Regions from separate parts of the Homo sapiens genome. Here region 2 is linked to region 1. The links come from fine-mapping of genetic effects on gene expression. Tissue or cell type: whole blood. Region 1 holds a variant in brackets; the other region holds the start of a gene. All regions are shown on one strand. Distances are between the middles of the regions.

Region 1 (5,147 bases):
GACGCCGTTGCCTAGAGCTGGTGCCCATGGCCAGACCCCTGCAGGGCAGATGGGAAAATGCAGGCTAGCTGTGTGCTAGGGATGGAGGTGAAGTGGGTTTTGAGTAGGGTGGCCCATGTAATTCATCCTTCAAACCAGGACCTTGCTAAGAGTGAAAGGTGTGATCAAGTTGTGCCAGAAAGGCAGGCACCAACTGAGACAGGACAAACGGTCACCCTGGGTTTGTGAGCAAAAACAGGCAAAGACAAACAAGACAGTGTTCTTATTTTCCTCATTGCCTGTAGAAGAGGAAAGCATGCGACCCGGCCTGTTCTACGCTTGGTTGTATTTCTCACACTTGTCAATATACCCGGGTCTGTTTATGCAGACAGCCTCTACTGAGTGGTTGTTTTTGTTTAACTTTTGCACAATGAACCTTAATGCATCTTTGTTTATTGAGCCAGTTCCTACAGATGGACACAAGTCATTTCAGCCTTTTCAATCACAAACAATGGTGCGGTGTTTTATACTGCACAGACATCATTTTAGGTCCAGTTTAAATAGTAGTAGTGTAGGCCAGGTGCGGTGGCTCACGCCTGTAATCCCAGCACTTTGGGAGGCTGAGGTGGGTGAATCACCTGAGGTCAGGAGTTCGAGACCAGCCTGGCCAACATGGTGAAACCCCGTCTCTACTGAAAATACAAAAATTAGCTGGGTGTGGTGGTGCGTGCCTGTAGTCCCAGCTACTCGGGAGGCTGAGGCAGGAGGATTGCTTGAATCCGGGAGGCGGAGGTTGCAGTGAGCTGAGATCACGCCATTCACTCCGCCTGGGCAGCAGAGTGAGACTCCATCTCAAAAAAATTAAATACATAAATAAATAAATAGTAGTAGTCATGAAATGAACACTTATGCCTTTACCATCTGTGAACATATGCATCTCAGATTAATGCATTATAGAGTTTTTCTTATTTCTGTACTTTATATAAATAAGATCAGATTCAAGGTATTCTTTTTGTTATTTTTCTTTTCTTTCTCTATTTTTTGATTTGGGATCGTTCTCTGTCACCCAGGCTGGAGTGCAGGGGCACAATCTTGGCTCACTGCAACCTGGAACTCCTGGGCTCAAGTGATCCTCCCGTCTCAGCCTCTCGAGTAGCTAGGACTATGGCCATGTGCCACTACACCCTCTAAGTTTTCTTTTTCTTTTTTTTTTTTCTGTAGAGATGGAGTCTTGGTATGTTGGCCAGGCTGGTCTCAAATTCCTGGGCTCAAGTGATCCTCCCGCCTCAGCCTCCCGGATTGCTGAGACTGCAGGCCTCTTTCGGGTGGTCATTCTGGCTGGCTGCAGGTATTCTTTTTAAATTCTGTGTTCTCCTCACTGTTGCTCAAAATTATGATTTTTGACACATGCGTCCATTGAATGAATGTTAGATTCCATTGAATGACTGTACAGTTTAAAAAATAGTTGAGTTTACTTTTGAGGGTTCTTTGGACCATGGCCAGTGTTTTGTGTTTTGGACCGTGCTGTACAGACACTCTCTGTCCTTTCGTGCCCGTGTGCAGCGTTTTCACTGTGGTTACGCCCGACAGCAGATGTGCTTCCTCTCAGGACAGGTATGTATTTCCTGTTGCTTCCCATTCTCCTCTTGACTTTCTTTTGCATTTCAGGCTAAGCAGCTTTTCACGTCTTTGCAATTTGAGTTTCCTCATTTGTAAATGCCCCTCTGAGTCTTTTGCTCATTTTCCTATTATATTGTTTATCTTTTCCTTATTAGATTAGCGGGGTTCTTTCTGTATTTTGAATACAAATTCTGTGTTGCTCATTATTGTTGAAATATTGTCAGCTTGTGACTTGTCTTTTCCCTCTTTATGACGTCTTTTTTTACTTTTATTTTTTATTTATTCTTATTATTTTTTATTTTTTAGTAGAGATGAGGTTTCGCCATGTTGGCCAGGATGATCTTGAACTCCTGGCCTGAAGTGATCCCTTTGCTTTGGTTTCCCAAAGTGCTGGGATTACAGGCATGAGCCGTAGCACCCGGCCTTTATGGTGTCTTTTGATAACAGAAGTTCATAAATGTAACGCGGTCAGGCTGGTCGATCTTGTCCTTAGGGTTGGTGCTTTTTGGTTTTGTGCTTGAGGATCCTCCCCCAGCTGTGGTCCCAAGCACCCCCTCACCCAGAGCAGGCAGTGACTTGGATGTTTGGGTAGCGAGCTCTGGGTCAAGTTCCTGGCCCACACCTGCCAGGAACACTCAGCTCTGACTTGCCGTGGAGCCCCCTGTGCCTACTTTGCTGTCCACCCTGGGTGGGTGTGCCCCTGATGCACTGCTGTCAGCTTCCCCTTTGGATCTGGAATTTTATTTTTCTGTCTAACGTGCTTGTCCCCGGTTGGACTGGCCTGTATTCCTTGGGCAACCCAGCAGGTGGCTTGGCCTTTGGACAATTAGCTCCTCTGCTCCCCTGAGGAAGGGAAGGAAAGCCCCAGCGAGTGGTGGAGTTGGCTTCCGAGACACTTTCCAGTGACAGGTCTCTCCGGAGCTGGGGTCTCAGGGCAGGGCCTGCAGGGAAACGTGGACTCACTGGGGAGGAAGTATAGCTTGGCTCTGGGTTTGACGACAATGACGATGGTGACGATGATGATGACGACGATGCTATTTTGTTGTTGTTTTGGGGTTCACAGGAGCTGAGAGGAAGAGCAAGGGTTTGCAAATGAGGAAGAAAGCTGGGAAGTGGTTTCATGCAT[T/C]TCCTCCTCTCTCCACGTGCCAGAAGGTGCCACTCGGAGGCTGTCTTCCCAGCCTCTTGAGGACAGGCAGAAGTCCTTGTGGCCTCAGTTAAAGGAAAGAAGAGAGAAAGAAAAGAATGAAAGCAAGAAAAGGGGCCAGGAGGGAGTGTGAGCTGCAATCCCAGCATCCTGACATGTGCCCTCATGCCTGGTCACATGCAGGCACGTTGCACGCCCGCTGGGCACAGGCCGCTTGTGTACCTTGGTCACTTATATTCTTAACAGCCATCCAGGACCCCGTCGAGTGCATAATACAGCCGTGTACTAATATAGCCATCCTTAGCAGCCGTCCGTGCACTAATACAGCCGTGCGGGTGGGCTGCCGTGCGCTAACCTAGCCGTCCTTTTGATGTTGGGCATGGGGTCATTTCCAGGGTCAGGTTAGATGTTCTAGACAGACCCAGCAGTGGGTAGCTTTAACTAGTACTTTAGTCCTTCCTTTCCATTATTTCCTTAAGCTACATTCTCATAAATGAAATTTCTGGGTAAATGATGAATATTTTTATGGTTTTAAAAAGACAGCATCAAATTTCTTTTCAAGGACAGGTGCTAATTTGGAAAATCCCAAATACATGTATCTATTAGAGATGGCATCCTGCTATATTGCCCAGGCTGGTCTTCAACTCCCGGCTTCAAGCAGTCCTCTTGCTTTGGCCTCCCCAAGTGCTGGAACTACAGGCGTGAGCCACAGTGCCTGACCCCTCGTAATTTTTAAAGATAGAGTGGGGCAGGAAAAGCTCACCAGAATGTCTCTCCAGCCCGTGAAGGGCTCCAGTCTTGGTGTCTGGAAGGCTCTAATCAGCAGCTCTGTTTTTACGGGGCCAGGCTGGAGCAGACAGGAAGGCTTTATGCTATCTGACTGATAAGGTTGTCTGGGGACTGTTTCCACACCACCGGTTTCTGTGCTTGTTGCTGTGGGCTTGGGTCTGGGGACCTGGGACCTGGCACGGAGCTATGGGGGCTCTGACTGTCTCAGACCCTGCCTCTGCCATCTTAGAGCTCACACTTTAGGTAGGGGGGAATGAAGCAACCGGTGCTCTCTAAGCAGAGTCGGGAAGCCTCATGTACCCAGGGCCTTGCTTTGGCCTCTCAGGGGTCGCAGGCAAGACTGGCTTGGTCAGGCCCAGAGGGTGCCCTGGGAAGGTGGGCCTCTCAGTTCAGGCTGGAAGCCCAGCTAGGGTGGTCAGGCCCTGAGGGCTGGAGGTGTAGGTAGAAAGGTGCCCTCAGGGAAACAACAGAAACGCCCAGTCCAGTGGCAATAAAGCCCCAAGGACAGGCAGGCAGTGCAGGGCACCCCCAGGCCGCCAGCCCAGAACCTTTCCCACTGGGGTCTGGGCCTTTCCATGGGCAGACAGAGCCCCACGGGCCAGGGCTGAGGGATCCATTGTCCCCACACTAGCAGGGCCCCTGACCCACTCGCATCCAGCAAGCGCGGCTGACCTTTCTCTGGGTGCTTGGCCGGAATCCAAGCCCATTCTTCCGAGCACCTCAGAGGGGGGTCAGGGCCTCAGCAGGGACCTGATCAGGACCTGAGGGTGGACAGTTTCACTTTCCCTCAGATACAGGGTGGGAGGCTATTTGGGGACAGGAGCCCAAAAGGGCCTGTCTGCTCACTCAGACCAAAAGTGGGATAAAACCAAAACCACTTCCTGGGAGGACAGCGTCTAGGGTGTCAGAGCCCGACACCGCTGCCCTCCACGCCTGCCTCCGCTGAAGTGGGTTCTGGGGGCTCCGAAGGTCAGCAGGGTTCCGGACGCTTTCCTGGGACTGCCCCTCCCAGCTGTGCAGGCTCAGAGGCTCCTCCACCCACTCCAGCATCCACAACAACAACAAAAATAAAAATAGCTCACACAGGACTTTCCCCATCCCAGCTCTGTGGTAGATGCCACTCTCATTACTCCCATTTTACAGATGAGGAAACTGAAGCACAGAGAGGTCAAGAAACCTGCTCCAGGTCACACAGCCAGTGAGCAGTGGAACCGGGGCTCAGAGGGAGGCAGTCTGACTCCAGAGCCAGAATGTACAGGCTTTTCATGTTGTGAGACGACAAATACATACACACGCGCCCACCAGAAGAAACCTACAGGCTGGGGCTGGGGGCAGAGTGGGGCTCCAAAGCCAGCAGACCTGGGACTGCATCCTAGCACTGCTGATCCCCAGACAGGTGACTTTGGTCGATTATCTTTTACATTTAGAGACAGGATCTCACACTGTTGCCCAGGCTGGAGTGCAGTGGTTGCAATCATAGCTCACTGCAGCCTTGACCTCCTGGGCTCAAGCGATCCTCCCACCTCAGCCCCCCAAGTAGGTAGGACTACAGTTGCATACCACGCCTGGCTAGGTTTTTAAACTTTTTGTAGAGATAGAGTCTCACTGTGTTGTT
Region 2 (5,147 bases), 100 kb before region 1:
TAATAATGTGTCATAAAGAGTCACACTCATGAACACAGAAGGGAAGTTAAGTGATCTGGGATTTTTGAACACATTTCTGAATACTGGTCTGGAATCACTATGGAGGACCGTTTAACGTGATCCAGCAGAAAGACTCATTTGGAGACAGAGCCGGACTCCCGGAGCCCCTCCAGGTGGAACTCACTCCACGCAGAGCTCAGACTCGGTCCCACACTCCTGATCCCTGATCCATCACAGCCCACCTCTTGGGCCACTCCTGTGCCATTGGGACTTTCATGGAATAACTACAGTTAAGGGCTTCCTTACAAGTGTTCCTGGTAACAGTTAATACCTCCCCTTCTTTTATGATGAGAAAAATGGTCAATGATTCCCTCAACAGAGAAGGCCAGTAGCACAGTGAAATCAAGAAGCCCGGAACATGAAAAGTCTTTCCTCAGCTCCCTGCAGTGAAATCCCTATAAATGCGAATCACCCTGCCTACTCCTTACCTTTAAAAATTACTTAGGGTGAGGGGGCTTTAGGATGAGGACAGCCTTGGCCTCCAGGGGGCTGTGGGGAAGGACGCATGTGTGTGCATTGGGGGCAGATGTTCCAGACCCTCGTTGTCCTCCCTGGCTCCTTGCTGGTATTGACTAGTGGGGCTGGGCATGGGACAGGCCTTCATACTGGGGGTACCAGTCCTGTCCAGCTGTTTGGGTCTCTGGCTGTCACTGAAGTTCTTGATTCCAGGTATTTGCTACTGGCTGTGAAATCCCCACTTAGGATAGCCTTGTCTCCTGAGCCAGGCCCCTTACTGGGACACTTTTGGATTCTTCCCCAGGAGAACTGCCTCAGCTCAACAATCCAGCTGCTCCTTCCAGATGTGCTAGAGCTTGCCCTCCTGCTCCTAGGCTGCATGCCGGAATTGGTCCCTGCCCCTGGCAGACTTCTACAGGACCTCAGTTTCTCTCTTCTCCTTCCAACCCTCTCTTGGCCTGGCATATCCCTCTTCTCCCAGAGGGAGTTCCCGTATGTCTTACTCTCCTTCTCCAGGGAATTGTAAGCCCTCAGGCTCAGCCTTTACAAAGAAAAGGGTATCCTTTCTACATTACGAAAGACCCCCATTAAGCCTGCAGGTGAGACAGGTGAGACTGTTAACCTAGGAACTGAGGGACAACTAGGAACCAGGATATTGAGGAGGACAAAATATTTGGCATCCTCAGAATATTATTCCCATCAGATATTTATATACTTTTTTTTTTTTTTTCCTTGAGACGGAGTTTCGCTGTTGTCGCCCAGGCTGCAGTGCAATGCAATGGCACGATCTCGGCTCACAGCAACCTCCACCTCCCGGGTTCAAGCGATTCTCCTGCCTCAGCCTCCCGAGTAGCTGGGATTACAGGCATGCACCACCACCCCCGGCTAATTTTGTATTTTTAGTAGAGTCGGGGTTTCTCCATGTTGGTCAGGTTGGTCTCGAACTCCTGACCTCAGGCGATCCGCCCGCCTCAGCCTCCCAGAGTGCTGGGTTTACAGGCGTGAGCCACCGCGCCCGGCCAGCTTTTCACTGGACACTAGTTTCGAAGAAAACTAGGTAAGTCTAAAGCAGGTTAGAAAATACTGAAATCGTTGAATATGCTACAAAATTGAACATCTGAATCTGGCCAGATTCGTACTTCATGTAAATCACTGTGAATGATGGGGCTGCTGAATTTGGGGGATCTGGTGACTCCTCGGCATTTGTGGTTTATGGTCTTAGTGGAAACCTTTTTCGATGGTTTTCGAGCCTGTAATTCATGGTTGTATGTTCTGTATTTTTCCCAAGACCACTGCTGGAATCCTGTATTCACTGCATAATGAGTATTTTATTTTTAGATGTGGATCACCCCTTAGGGAGGGGCTCTGTGGGAAGGTAGGTAATGAACTATTTTTAATATAAATCACAAGTGTCAAAGAAAGTGGTAATATCCAAAGAATAAACAAGAGTGACCACCATTCAGGTGCCGAGAAGGTATCTGAAGCTCCCACAGGCATTTTAAACTGTGTGATAGTATTTCAACCATTTGGTCAACAATGAAGAAAGATCCAAGGATTGCCCCAGGCATGTGTTTATTTGATTCAATGCAGGTAACTTCTCAGGCCCAGGGAAACACTTTGCCCTTCAAAAGTTTCATTAGAAAACCCCAATATACTGGTGACTAAGTAACAAGACTGAAACTCTACACAAACTTTCGTTGTATGGAGACCTCCGCTTTTGCTGCCTTAGCTGAAGTATTGCAGAGGAAATGTATAAAACTTAAAATCCAGAGTAGAGGATCTGGGACCCAAAATCCGTCTTTAGAAATCCACGGCACTTTTACAGACGGACTATATTAAAGTAGGGACAAAGTCCCAGGCTGGGGGTACTAGCCGGCTATCTGCCCACACAGTATGTAAATGAAAGTAGGGTTTACCATCCAGGGCATTAACTTCATTTTCCTTGTCTTCGAGATCCATTAAATGCTAGTACTGTATGAGAAGCGTGGACCTTAAGTATTAAAGATGGCTTTTTCTTCTTCTTCTTCTTATTTAGCGTAGAAACTAGCAACAGGGAACAAGGTAACTGAATTCACGGTCCACTCGCAGGCGCGCACGTCCCCAGGGCTCCGGGACGGCTGTTCCCTGCGTGCGGCCGCGGGACTGCGGACAAAGCTGCAGTGTGGTCGGGAGCGCGGGGCCGGGAGCGCGGGGCCGGCCCGGCGGCAGGAAGGGCGTGGCCGTGGGGTGCAGCGAGGACGGCCCGTGCGGGAGGAACGTGCGCAGCGTGGAGTCTGGGGGCCGAGAAGCCCCCACTGCAAGGCTGGCTCCCGAGATTCGCGCCCGGGCGCCGCGGTGCGGGAAGCGGCCGTCCTCGCGGGGACGCCCTTGCGCCGGGTGCTAGGTGCGGATCACGGGCAGCTCCGGCCCCGCGGGCGCCGGGCGGGGGCCCACGCCCCCTCCGCCCGCCAGCTCCAGTCGCAGACCGCGCGGGCGGGGCGCCCGAGAGGGCTTTTTTTTTTTTTGGTCAAACTTCGGCCACGTGAACCGCCCCTCATTCACTTTTGCGCCAATCGCGCGGCGCGGACGGATCCCGAGAGGGGCCACGGCTCGCCGCCGGCGGGGCCACTTCATAACGCGCCGTGCGTGACGTGAGGGGCTCCTGTTGCAATGGCGAGCTAAGCCGGAGGATGTGCAGCTGCGGCGGCGGCGCCGGCTACGAAGAGGACGGGGACAGGCGCCGTGCGAACCGAGCCCAGCCAGCCGGAGGACGCGGGCAGGGCGGGACGGGAGCCCGGACTCGTCTGCCGCCGCCGTCGTCGCCGTCGTGCCGGCCCCGCGTCCCCGCGCGCGAGCGGGAGGAGCCGCCGCCACCTCGCGCCCGAGCCGCCGCTAGCGCGCGCCGGGCATGGTCCCCTCTTAAAGGCGCAGGCCGCGGCGGCGGGGGCGGGCGTGCGGAACAAAGCGCCGGCGCGGGGCCTGCGGGCGGCTCGGGGGCCGCGATGGGCGCGGCGGGCCCGCGGCGGCGGCGGCGCTGCCCGGGCCGGGCCTCGCGGCGCTAGGGCGGGCTGGCCTCCGCGGGCGGGGGCAGCGGGCTGAGGGCGCGCGGAGCCTGCGGCGGCGGCCCGGCGGGCGGAGCGGCGCGGGCATGGCCGCGCGCGGCCGGCGCGCCTGGCTCAGCGTGCTGCTCGGGCTCGTCCTGGGCTTCGTGCTGGCCTCGCGGCTCGTCCTGCCCCGGGCTTCCGAGCTGAAGCGAGCGGGCCCACGGCGCCGCGCCAGCCCCGAGGGCTGCCGGTCCGGGCAGGCGGCGGCTTCCCAGGCCGGCGGGGCGCGCGGCGATGCGCGCGGGGCGCAGCTCTGGCCGCCCGGCTCGGACCCAGATGGCGGCCCGCGCGACAGGAACTTTCTCTTCGTGGGAGTCATGACCGCCCAGAAATACCTGCAGACTCGGGCCGTGGCCGCCTACAGGTGAGCCCCTGCTCCCCGGGCACCGCCTCCTGCGTCCGGCATCCCGGCGGCCGGCATCCCGGGTGCTCTCCTGGCTCTCGCCTCCGCCCGCTTCCTAGGCCCTTCTTGGGCTTCCGGCGGGATCGGGTTGCCTCTCGGGAGACGCCGGGCCGAGGGAGAAAAGATCAGAGGCGGGATGGTGAGCGCGGCGCTCAGGAACATGGCCTTTGGGGTCAGATGGACTAGTGTGGCCTCGCTGGGTGTACCTCTCACCCTGATGAAGGCACTTTAGCCTTTGCAAATCGAAGCTTCTCGTTAGAAGGGCCCGACAGATCGGGTCTCCCTCATAATGTTGGAAAACTCATAGCACAGTACCTGATAGTGGAGGCAGTTGGGGCTGATACTGGATTCCCTAAAATGTGCACCTTTGTCCTTGCAAAGCTGGAGCCCGTGTACGTTAATCTAGTTCTAGAACCTTTCCACATCATACTCTCACATTTCGCAGTTGGAGGCACTCCTATAAATGAAAGAGAATGCCCGCAGCATATTGGACCACACCAGTCTGTTGAGTACAGAGAGAGAGAACCTTGGGGAAAAGCAGTTCTTGGCCCTTGGTAGATTCAGTGGAAAACTGCATTCTGGTGTTAATTAGTTCAGCTTGGTGGTGTATGCATGTTATCCAGTAACTGGGCTCTAGTTGGCCAAATGAGTCATAAAAGCAGCTGGAATTGTGTTCAGGTTTAACAAAGGGATTAGCCAATGTAGTCTCTAGAAGGGAGATGATTTTGGAATGGCTGGCATGGTTAGAATCAGATTTGTATTGGAGTGAATTTGAAGTTGGAGAGGGTTGTAGACTCGATAAAGGGATTTGATGGAAACCCTATATGTGTGAAGTATAGAGACACTTACTGTATGGATAAAGTTTGGGTCTTATCCAGCCACAGAGCAAACCAATGTGGGGAATGGTTTTAGAGCATCAGTTGTCTGGTAATGAAATTTCAGAGCAGCCAGTGCTGAGCCAGGCTAAGCTGGTTGCTGTTTGTTCTTATAACCAATACCTTTACACTTCAGTTTTTAAATGCAGTCTTGGTCAGATTTTTCAGGCACTAGATGTTGTGAGGGGAAAAGCATATATGGTCTCCCTTGCCTTTAAGGGAGAAAGTAAAGGACTGAGAAAGAAGGTGAAAGTGGTCTTCAGTGACTGC

Evidence for each region. PIP is the estimated chance that this variant, and not a neighbour inherited with it, causes the effect.
Region 2: it holds the start of CHSY1, and the variant in region 1 is fine-mapped to the expression of CHSY1 in whole blood (TOPMed, PIP above 0.99).

What each region holds. Positions count from the first base shown.
Region 1 is chr15:101,147,900-101,153,046 of GRCh38, reverse strand. LRRK1-AS1 (LRRK1 antisense RNA 1) reads left to right here and starts at 1,208. Exons shown (of 3, transcript XR_001751724.2): 1 at 1,208-1,327. The variant T/C (reference allele first, on the strand shown) is at 2,726.
Region 2 is chr15:101,249,953-101,255,099 of GRCh38, reverse strand. It overlaps CHSY1 (chondroitin sulfate synthase 1), which reads left to right and starts at 3,052. Exons shown (of 3, transcript NM_014918.5): 1 at 3,052-3,963. The coding sequence starts at 3,644. RefSeq lists silencers at 2,588-2,967, 3,138-3,447, 3,638-4,067.